2 separate regions of the Homo sapiens genome follow, and region 2 is linked to region 1. Evidence: fine-mapped expression QTL. A gene starts in region 1. The other region holds a variant in brackets. All regions are shown on one strand. Distances are from middle to middle. Region 1 holds the start of SERPING1 (serpin family G member 1). Region 2 overlaps ZDHHC5 (zDHHC palmitoyltransferase 5).

Region 1 (5,377 bases):
CCCACAAGCTGGGAAAACCTCTCCACTGGGGCTTTTTCACCCTGGAACTTTGGCCCACAAAGCATCGTACTCTTGCAGCTGTACCCAGAATATTCCCTTTGCTGTCTGCTTCAGGTTAGCCCCTGGTGTGTGTCAATAATTTGTAAGGGTTAATAAAGAACTGTTGGGTCAAACAGACCTGGTCCACATCCTGGCTCTGTCACTTACTGGCTTTGTGATATTAGGTAGATCAATTAATTTCTCTGAGCCTCATTTTAACTTGTTTAAGATGGGATTAATATAGCACCTACTTCATAGGTGATGAGAATTAGTGAGAGGATGAATGTAAATGCATGGTGAGCACTCAGTGAATTAGGTTGCTTTCCACCACCTTCTTTTCCTTTGGCTGACCCATTTCCCAGAATCCACAAGCTCATAGTCCCTTTGAGCCCACCAGCTTGAGCACTGGGGATGGAGAAACGTTGTTTTGTGTGCAGCTGTTCAAACGATGGCTCTGATGTTATATAACTTTCCCATGGTTTAGGAGGTTCCCAAGTGGCTTCAGAGAATAAAGCACAAAGCTGGGGAAGACTCTTTCTGGGTCTTGTCCAAGGACCCCCGAGGAGACACACAAATATTCTCCTGTTTCTGTCCTTGGTCAGTCCCTTAGAGTAGCAGTTCTGGTGCTAGCAGCAAACTTTCCTGAATGCTCCAAACACAGCCAGAGGATAGGCCTGCAGTGAGATGACGATAGAACATGATAGCTATATTAGGTCATCAGAGACAACCTGTTTGTTTTGCAGATGAGGCAGAGTTATCAGATTTAGCAAAAATACAAAATGCCAATTATATTTGAATTTCAGATACACAACAATGACAACAAAATTTATTTTACCATAAGTATATTCCAATGTAAGCATTTTTACCATAAGTATATCCCAATGTAAGTTTTTTTTTTTTTTTTTAGAGACAGCAAGTGTCTTACTCTGTTGCCCAGGCTGGAGTGCAGTGGCATGATCAATGCTAACTGCAGCCTTGAACTCCTGGGCTCAAGGGATCCTCCTGCCTCAGTCTCCTAAAAGGCTGGGATTACAGGTATGAACCCCCAGGCCTGCCTACTTCGTGTGTTTTATCTGGCAATGCTGAGAGGACAGCTAGATGTCGAGGACAGCCAGATTTCGAGGACAGCCAGACGTCAAGGGGGAAAGCAACTTGCTGGCTCACACAGCCAGCCAGGTCTATTGTGGAGCCCTAGTCGCAAACACATACACCCCAGCTTTCAAGTTTTTAAATATTTATTTAGTTAGTTATTTGTTTTTTGAGACAGTCTTGCTCTGTCACCCAGGCTGGAGTGCAGTGGTGCAATTTCAGCTCACTGCAACCTCTGCCTCCCAGATTCAAGTGATTGTGCCTCAGCCTCCCTAGTAGCTGGGACTACATGTGCGCGCCTGCACTGCCCAGCTAATTTTTGTACTTTTAGCGGAAACGGGGTTTCCCCATATTGGCCAGAGTGGTCTCAAACTCCTGACCTCAAGTGATCCACCCACCTCGGCCTCCCAAAGTGCTGGGATTACAGGCGTGAGCCACCGTGCCCGGCTAGCTTTTTTTTTTTTTTTTTTTTTAATTAGGTTGAATGCTTGTTGAGCTGGGTGCCTCACATCCGTTGTCTGTTATACAAAGAACTACTGATTATGGGTCTCTACGAGCAAAAATGGCAGAACACCTACAGGGCACAGGGGAGATGGGAGCAGGGATTAGGCTTCAGAATACTTCTCCAAATGAGGGTGATCAGGGCCCGACATTTCACTGCTCTAAGGCTCAGTATCTTAACTATCAAATGGGTACAATGGGGCACAAAGGGTTACTTTGAGGAATAACGGAGGTGAGCAATTTCCAAAAAGTTCATTCCTTTAAAAACTGCGGAGCACATTTTGTGTACATGCTGTTTTTATTGTTACTCATGAAGACGCGGGGGAAGCTTTGGTTGTGTAAAGCTGAGAACTGCACCCAAGCTTCCCCGTTCACCCCACCTACCAGGGGATTTGGGCTAAATTCCTGGCCTGGCCCACAAAGAAGACCAAGCGGTCAGTCCCATTCCGTCCCATCCTGATTTACAGGAACTCACACCAGCGATCAATCTTCCTTAATTTGTAACTGGGCAGTGTCCCGGGCCAGCCAATAGCTAAGACTGCCCCCCCCGCACCCCACCCTCCCTGACCCTGGGGGACTCTCTACTCAGTCTGCACTGGAGCTGCCTGGTGACCAGAAGTTTGGAGTAGGTTTGGTGCTGGGCAGGGGTGGGGAGTAGGGTGGAAAGCATGGAGTGAAGAGGTCTAGGGAGGGGGTCTCCTCACCCCCGCCTTCCTGCCCGCCTTGATCTCGGGGGTCTCTATAGGCTTGCTTCCACCTGGGACTTCTGCCTCCTCCTACCCCAGCCCCTCCCGCCTCAGGCCTGTTGTGCTCAGCCCCCCAGGACCTCCCCTCCCCCACGCCTCTGGCCTCATTGTTTGGTTAAAGCAGGACCCCCTCCCCCTCCCACCACCTCCCCTCCGACTGAACAGATGGACAGAGACCCGGGCCCACGGGGAGAGGAAGGGCCAGCCGGTGCCGGGAAAGGGAAGCGGTTTGGGGAAAACAAAACAGAGGGAGGAGCCAGGGAGAAGGTGGCCCCAGGAGGGAGGAGGAGGGAATTCGCTAAGAGGGACTGGGGCCTGAGACGGAATGGGGGCGGGCCCCGGGCGGGGTGGGGGCCCCTGGGCTCCCAGGGTGGGAGCTGGCTCCGAGGCTGGCTGGCTCCGCAGGTCCGCTGACGTCGCCGCCCAGATGGCCTCCAGGCTGACCCTGCTGACCCTCCTGCTGCTGCTGCTGGCTGGGGTATGTGGTCCCTTGTGGGATGGGGGACGGGGGTGGAGACGGGAGGCGGGATGGTGCGGGGTGCGGGCGGTGGCTGAGGATTAACCCTTCAGGCTCCGGGGAATGAGGAGAGCTCCTCTTGGGATCATTGAGTGTGATCCTTGCACACGCACTCGTAGATGGTGGAAAGAGCTCAGGACTCAGACAGATGCAAGTTCTAATCTTGGCGGGCCATGTAGGAGCTGCGCAGCGTGGTCCTGAGGACGTCACTTTTCTCAGCCTACTCCTCCTGATTTATAAAATGTTGAATAAACAGATCCCACCCTGTCCACCAAGCAGGCTTGGCAGGAGGATCACATAGGGCAAGGAGATGGGAAGCATTTTGTGATATCAAAGCAAGAGTTTGTTGTAGAAAAGAGCTGTGGGGAGGAGAGGTTTGGCTGCTGTGACACAGACGGTGGTCCCAGGCTAGGGCCTGTGAAGACAGGGAAGAATGGTAGCAAACATACGTGGGTCTGGGTGGGGGTCAATAGCAGTGAGAGGTCCCAGTGGTCTGGGAGGTCATGGACTAGAAATAAGGCTAAGAAGTGCAGGATCCCAGGAGAAAGGTAGGTAGGGGTGTGTGTATGTGCGTGTGTGTGTGTGTGCACGCGCAAGTTGGTATCACATACTCAGCAGATGATGTAGTTATGAGCAGGGAGTTTGGAATCAGAGACCTTGTTTTGACCCCTAGCTGTTTCTCCCATTTCTGTGAGACCCTGGACTAGTTAATATGTGTCGGTATGAGTTTCTCTACCTGTGAAATGGAGCTAATGCGTGGTTTCTCAGTGGAGGATCTGTTGACATTGGGGCTGGATAATTCATTGCTGAGGGGCTACCCTGCGCATTTTAGGATGTTTTGCAGTATATCTCTAGCCTCTACGCACTAGATTCCGGTAGCATCTTCCCTGCTGTCTCCCTGTGACAACCAAAAATGTCTCTGGACATTGCCAAATATCCCCTGGGAGTCAAAATTGTTTCAGAGCCGCTGGCCTATACTACTTCTCTCTCCCTCCCTTCCTGCCTCCCTTCTTTCCTCCTTCCCTTTCTTCGTTCCCTTCCTAATGTGTACTGTTTTTCCACACCCACTAATGGGTTGCAACCCACAGTTTAAAAATTTACTGTTCTAAATCAAGGAGCACAAGTTCAAATGTCTGTACTAGCCAAGCAAGTGAGTCAAACAGGTAGATATTTACAGGAAATTGCAAGAACATAGATAAATGACAACACTCAGCTTCACTGTTTGGAAAACAACTTCCTACAGGGCAGTAATTGGTCAGAGATTACAGAGTCCCTGACTATCCCTCATCTTCTGCAGAGCACATTCCTGTGCACCCCCACCCTCACCCTGTATTGCCCCTTCTCTGAGGAATTAGTGGTGGTGGTTCTAAGACAGATTGCTCATCTGCCGCACTGTCAGAAATTACTCTCTTGTACAGGACATTTTCCACATCCACACCTTCTCTTCCTGCTTTGAGTATTTTAGAGGACTGTGCCTCGTAGTAAGAAAAAAATGAAACTCAGTTTCTTGAACCACAGGATAGAGCCTCCTCAAATCCAAATGCTACCAGCTCCAGCTCCCAGGATCCAGAGAGTTTGCAAGACAGAGGCGAAGGGAAGGTCGCAACAACAGTTATCTCCAAGATGCTATTCGTTGAACCCATCCTGGAGGTTTCCAGCTTGCCGACAACCAACTCAACAACCAATTCAGCCACCAAAATAACAGCTAATACCACTGATGAACCCACCACACAACCCACCACAGAGCCCACCACCCAACCCACCATCCAACCCACCCAACCAACTACCCAGCTCCCAACAGATTCTCCTACCCAGCCCACTACTGGGTCCTTCTGCCCAGGACCTGTTACTCTCTGCTCTGACTTGGAGAGTCATTCAACAGAGGCCGTGTTGGGGGATGCTTTGGTAGATTTCTCCCTGAAGCTCTACCACGCCTTCTCAGCAATGAAGAAGGTGGAGACCAACATGGCCTTTTCCCCATTCAGCATCGCCAGCCTCCTTACCCAGGTCCTGCTCGGTAAGACCCTGCTTGAATTCTCTCCAGGTCATTTGTTGGACACTCCCATAAGAGTCACCAATCCAGACACTTACAAAGCCATGCCTCTGGGAAGAAGCTGTAAAAATGGGCTATTATATATTGGGGGTGGGGTAGAGGGATGTATCTTTTCATTCTTGAACATTCCATCATTTCACAGTGATGTAATAGGCACGATTGCTTGTAAAACTCTGTGACTATACAAGAACATATAAAATAAGGTCGCAGCCACTAACCATGTTTCATGGCAAGGAGAGGTGATAAGAAAGATGAAATTAGGCGCAGTGGCTCACGCCTGTAATCCCAGCACTTTGGGAGGCCAAGGCGGGTGGATCACCTGAGGTCAGGAGTTCAAGACCAGCCTGGCCAACATGGTGAAACCCTGTCTCTACTAAAAATACAAAAATTATCAGGGAGTGGTGGTGCATGCCTGTAATCCCAGCTACTTGG
Region 2 (5,377 bases), 93 kb after region 1:
CCTAACCATATAATAGATTCTTAGCTTTGGATGTGGTATAGTCCTGTCTAACTACGTTGGCCACATGGTCCAGCTCTGTCAAATGGTGTTAATAATGACATGGCATGAGAGGCAGAGCATAAATATTATTGCAGGAGGGAAGCTTTAACTCAATATGGGCATAGGCTTTCTTTTTTATTTATTTTTACTTTTTGTAGTGATGAGGTCTCACTGTGTTGCTTGGACTATCTCAAATTCCTGGCTTCAAGTGATCCTCATGCCCTGGCCTCCCAGAGTGCTGAGTGCTGGGATTACAGGCATGAGCCATTGCACTAGCAGGGTGTAGGCTTTCTTGACACCAAGATTTATAGTTCTAGCCTTCTATCTATTGGCTCAGTTTTGGTTATTTATCCTGGCTTTGCATTTTCTCTTCCAGAAAATCATGCTGTTGTGTTTCAATTTGTTGTAGTTGTTTTCCTGCCTGTCCTTCTGCATCCCTTGTCCTTTTTCCATTCCATTTTCACTTAGCTATAAGCAGTTACCTGCCAAATCTTCCTTCTAATCCTCTTTTCTTATGAATCTTGATGTTTCTGCAAAACCTCTGACATTCGTCACTTTTAGAGTTCCTTGGTCACATAGGATAAACATTGAGAGCCGGCCTTGGTCTTTTTTATATATATATATATTTATTTATTTATCGAGACGGAGTCTCGCTCTGTTGCCCAGGCTGGAGTGCAATGGCGCAATCTCGGCTCACTGCATCCTCCGCCTCCCGGGTTCAACCGATTCTCCTGCCTCAGCCTCCTGAGTAGCTGGGATTACAGGCACGCGCTACCACGCCCGGCTAATTTTTGTATTTTTAGTAGAGATGGGGTTTCACCATGTTGGTCAGGCTGGTCTTGAACTCCTGACCTCGTGATCTACCCGCCTCGGCCTCTCAAAGTGCTGGGATTACAGGCGTGAGCCACCGCGCCCGGCCAATTTTTTTTTTTTTTTTTTTTTAAGAGATGGGGTCTTGCTATGTTGCCCAGTACAGTGGCTATTCACAGGCAGTCATCATAGTTCACTACAGCCTTGAACTCCTGGGCTCAAGCCCCAGCCCCCCAAGTAGCTGGGACTACAAGTGTGCACCACTACGCCTGGTTGGCCTTGGCCTTTGACCAACCTCTGGAAGGTCTCCCTTGCAGATTTATAGAGCAAAATAAACTGGATTTAATTTTGAACTAATTGGTGACCATGATCAAAACTTAGCTGCCATTTGTTTCTCTTCTTGACAGAAGTAATTTAATGCTATGGTCCAGGGATGCCTCTCATCTGTCTCTCTTTGTCCCTAGGAATTTGATCATCACTGCCCCTGGGTGAATAACTGTATTGGTCGCCGGAACTACCGTTATTTTTTCCTTTTCCTCCTTTCCCTGACAGCCCACATTATGGGTGTGTTTGGCTTTGGCCTCCTTTATGTCCTCTACCACATAGAGGAACTCTCAGGGGTCCGCACGGCTGTCACGTATCCTTCAAGGCCTTTTAGATTGTGGGATTGGAAGGGGGAGGAATGAGGGCTAAAGGGAAAATGGCTGCAGTAGGGGCCGGGGAAAGTGAGGTCATGTTGCTCTGTTCTCCTTGATTGTTTGGCATCAGAATGGCAGTAATGTGTGTGGCTGGCTTATTCTTCATCCCTGTAGCTGGCCTCACGGGATTTCACGTGGTTCTGGTGGCCAGGGGACGCACAACCAATGAACAGGTATGGAGAAAAGTGACGAGAGACCCCTGAAGAGCAGGTCATGTCTCTTTAGCCTTCTGATTAGTGTGCAGTGTAGTGCTTCCACAAAGAGATGCTTAATGAATACTTTTCATGATTATGTAGAGATTAATGGTAGGGAGTGAGGTAGTCCTAGTTCCTCATGTAAGTGTAGAGGCCATGTAAGAATAGAGGCCATTTCTCACATATACACCATGGAATACTATGCAGCCATAAAAAAGGATGAGTTCTTGTCCTTTGTAGGGACATGGATGAATCTGGAAACCATCATTCTGCGCAAACTGTCGCAAGGACAGAAAACCAAACACCGCATGTTCTCACTCATAGGTGGGAACTGAACAATGAGAACACTTGGTCACGGGGTGGGGAACATAACACCCTGGGGCCTGTTGTGGGGCAGGGGGAGCGGGGAGGGATAGCATTAGGAGATATACCTAATGTAAGTGACGAGTTAATGGGTGCAGCACACCAACATGGCACATGTATACATATGTAACAAACCTGCATGTTGTGCATATGTACCCTAGAGCTGTAAGTATAATAATAATAAAGATACTCTCAAAGAGATACTAAGACAATAGAGATAAAGGCTGAATTTTGCCCTAAAATATCTTTTTTTATTTTTTATTTTTTTGAGACAGAGTCTTGATCTGTCGCCCAGGCTGGCATCCAGTGGCGTGATCTTGGCTCACTGCAACCTCTGCCTCCTGGGTTCAAGCGATTCTCCTGCCTCAGGCTCCCAAGTAGCTGAGATTACAGATGTGCATCACCACGCCCAACTAATTTTTGTATTTTTAGTAGAGACAGGGTTTCACCATGTTGGCCAGGCTGGTCTCGAACTCCCGACCTCAGGTGATCCACCCACCTCAGCCTCCCAAAGTGCTAAAATATCTTTTATTTATTTATTTATTTATTGTAATTTTAGTAGACACGGGGTTTCACCATGTTAGCCAGGATGGTCTCGATCTCTTGACCTCGTGATCCGCCCACCTCGGCCTCCCAAAGTGCAGGGATTACAGGCATGAGCCACTGCGCCCAGCCTAAAAATATATTTTATAACAAAATAATATCTATCTCCAAAGAAAGTCTTGGATGGTTTGGCATCATCACCTGAAATATCAATTGAGAGACCCAAACCAAACTGAAACTAGACAATATAGCATAAAGAATAAGATGATAGTTTTTTAAACAATACTCACCATAGAACTTGGTATCCAAATAAT[A/G]GTATTCTTTCTTTAGTTTGTCAAAAATCATATTAATAGATTTTTAAATTTAAAGTGTAGCAAGACATATGTATATGTACATATATGTTCATATACATATAAATATTTAAGATCTTCCTAAAAAAAAAAAAGAATAGAGGCCACTTCTTAGTTAACAGACATTTACTATATGCCCACTGGATACTGGAGAATTTAGGCTCTGAGTTTATAGAAACAATGAAAGACTTAGGCTAGCCCTCAAGAAGCTTATAGTGCTGCTTACAGGAAAGCAATGATTTTTGTGCATATAATAGTAGCTAACCTTAATTGCTTTTTTTTTTTCTTTTTTGAGACAGAGTATCGCTTTGTCACCCAGGCTGGAGCCCACTGGCTGGAGCCCACTGGCTGGGGCGCAGTGGCACGATCTCGGCTCACTGCAACCTTTGCCTCCTGGCTTCAAGCAATTCTCCTGCCTCAGCTACCCAAGTAGCTGGGATTGCAGGTGCCTGACACCATGCCCGGCTAGTTTTTATATATTTTTATAGTAGAGATGGGGTTTTGCCATGTTGGCCAGTTTGGTCTCAAATTCCGGACCTCAGGTGATCCACCTGCCTCAGCCTCCCAAAGTGCTGGGATTACAGGTGTGAGCTGCCATGCCCAGCCCTTAATTGCTTATTCTTTATCTTAGTTTTCAATATTTAGAAAGCTATCCCATTTTACATGAGGAAACTGAGGTTTTGGGTCAGCAACCATGAGGTAGACCTAGGATTTGAACTAAGGACCCTGACTGTAGATTCCCTGCTCTTAACCATAACATATATAAATTTCTTGTGTTTTACTCATTTGCATAGCCCTCAGATAGTGAGTGCACAATAACTTGTAATAGATTTGTATTTTGGCCTTTGGAAGTCAAGGTCTCATCTTCTAACCTGGTATTTTTTTTCTCCCTCTAGGTTACGGGTAAATTCCGGGGAGGTGTGAACCCCTTCACCAATGGCTGCTGTAACAATGTCAGCCGTGTTCTCTGCAGTTCTCCAGCACCCAGGTACACCTATCCCTCTGGTCTAGTGTTTACCATTGGTCAGAACTTTTATCTTCTTTGGGCTTGTTCTGGTAAAGGAGGGGTCTGGTGAGAGCCTTTAGGAAGGGTTCTCTATCTTAGAATGTTAAGTACCCACTCTATCTTAGAATGGTAAGTAGTCTATCTTAGAATGGTAAGTACCTACATGCCCATCCTTTAGTGCAGTGGTCCCTAACCTTTTTGGCAGCAGGGACCGGTTTCATGGGAGACACTTTTTCCACAGATGGGGGCTGGGGTGGGGTGGTTTCAGGATGAAACTGTTCCACCTCAGATCATGAGGCATTAGATTCTCATGGCTGGGTGTGGCGGCTCACACCCAGCACTTTGGGAGGCCGAGGTGGGCGAATCACTTGAGGTCAGAAGTTCAAGTCCAGCCTGGCCAATATGGTGAAACCCCTTCTCTACTCAAAATACAAAAATTAGCTGGGCAAGGTGGCAGGCACCTGTAATCCCAGCTACTTGGGAGGCTGAGGCAGGATAATTGCCTGAACCCAGGAGGCAGAGGTTGCAGTGAGCTCAGAGCACACATACAACCTAGATTGCTTGCATGTGTAGTTTACAACAGGGTTCTAGGGTTTGCGCTCCTAAGAGAATCTAATGCCTCCGCTGATCTGACAGGAGATGGAGCTCAGGTGATAATGCTCACTGGCCCACTGCTTACCTCCTGCTATGTGGCCCAGTTCCTAACAGGCCATGAACCGGTACTGGTCTGCGGCCCAGGGGTTGGGGACCCCTGCTTTAGTGGACACTGTGAATTCCATTGATATTCTTCAGGTATTAAGGTAAATCTTTGAGAATTGAGGGTGAATAAGATACACTCTAAAGTGCTTTCCTTGAGCTAGGTATCTGCTCACAAAGGCCTAGTCCTGCTGCAGTCCTTCACAGAATCAATTCTGTTTATTGCTAAGTAAGTGATGGCCAAAACTGCAATTACTTTTTTACCAACCTAATAAAAATGGTTTACAGAAACAGTAGATACTTTAAAATATAAATGAATGAAAGCTCTCTCGCTGTGTCTCTCTCTCTCTCTCTCTCGACACTTAGGTATTTGGGGAGACCAAAGAAAGAGAAGACAATTGTAATCAGACCTCCCTTCCTTCGACCAGAAGTTTCAGATGGGCAGATAACTGTGAAGATCATGGATAATGGCATCCAGGGAGAGCTGAGGAGAACAAAGGTGAGGAATTTAGAGAAGTCAAGCTAGATAACATGGAAGTCTCACCCAAGGCAAAGAGACGGAAGCTTGCTTTAGTTTCCTTTGTGTTTTTTTTTTTTTTTTTGAGACAGAGTCTTGCTCTGTTGCCCAGGCTGGAGTGCAGTGGTGCTCAGTGCAAACTCTGCCTCCCAGGTTCAAGC

Evidence for each region. PIP is the estimated chance that this variant, and not a neighbour inherited with it, causes the effect. A credible set is the group of variants that fine-mapping cannot tell apart.
Region 2: its variant is the best candidate, but not a certain one, in a credible set for the expression of SERPING1 in whole blood (TOPMed, PIP 0.50).

Annotation. Positions count from the first base shown.
Region 1 is chr11:57,595,469-57,600,845 of GRCh38, forward strand. SERPING1 (serpin family G member 1) reads left to right here and starts at 2,217. Exons shown (of 8, transcript NM_000062.3): 1 at 2,217-2,254; 2 at 2,781-2,853; 3 at 4,411-4,909. The coding sequence starts at 2,803.
Region 2 is chr11:57,688,718-57,694,094 of GRCh38, forward strand. It overlaps ZDHHC5 (zDHHC palmitoyltransferase 5), which reads left to right. Exons shown (of 12, transcript NM_015457.3): 5 at 1,314-1,486; 6 at 1,618-1,720; 7 at 3,894-3,985; 8 at 5,066-5,198. Among named protein-coding and RNA genes, the nearest start is that of MED19, 21 kb to the right of the region's middle. The variant A/G (reference allele first, on the strand shown) is at 2,962.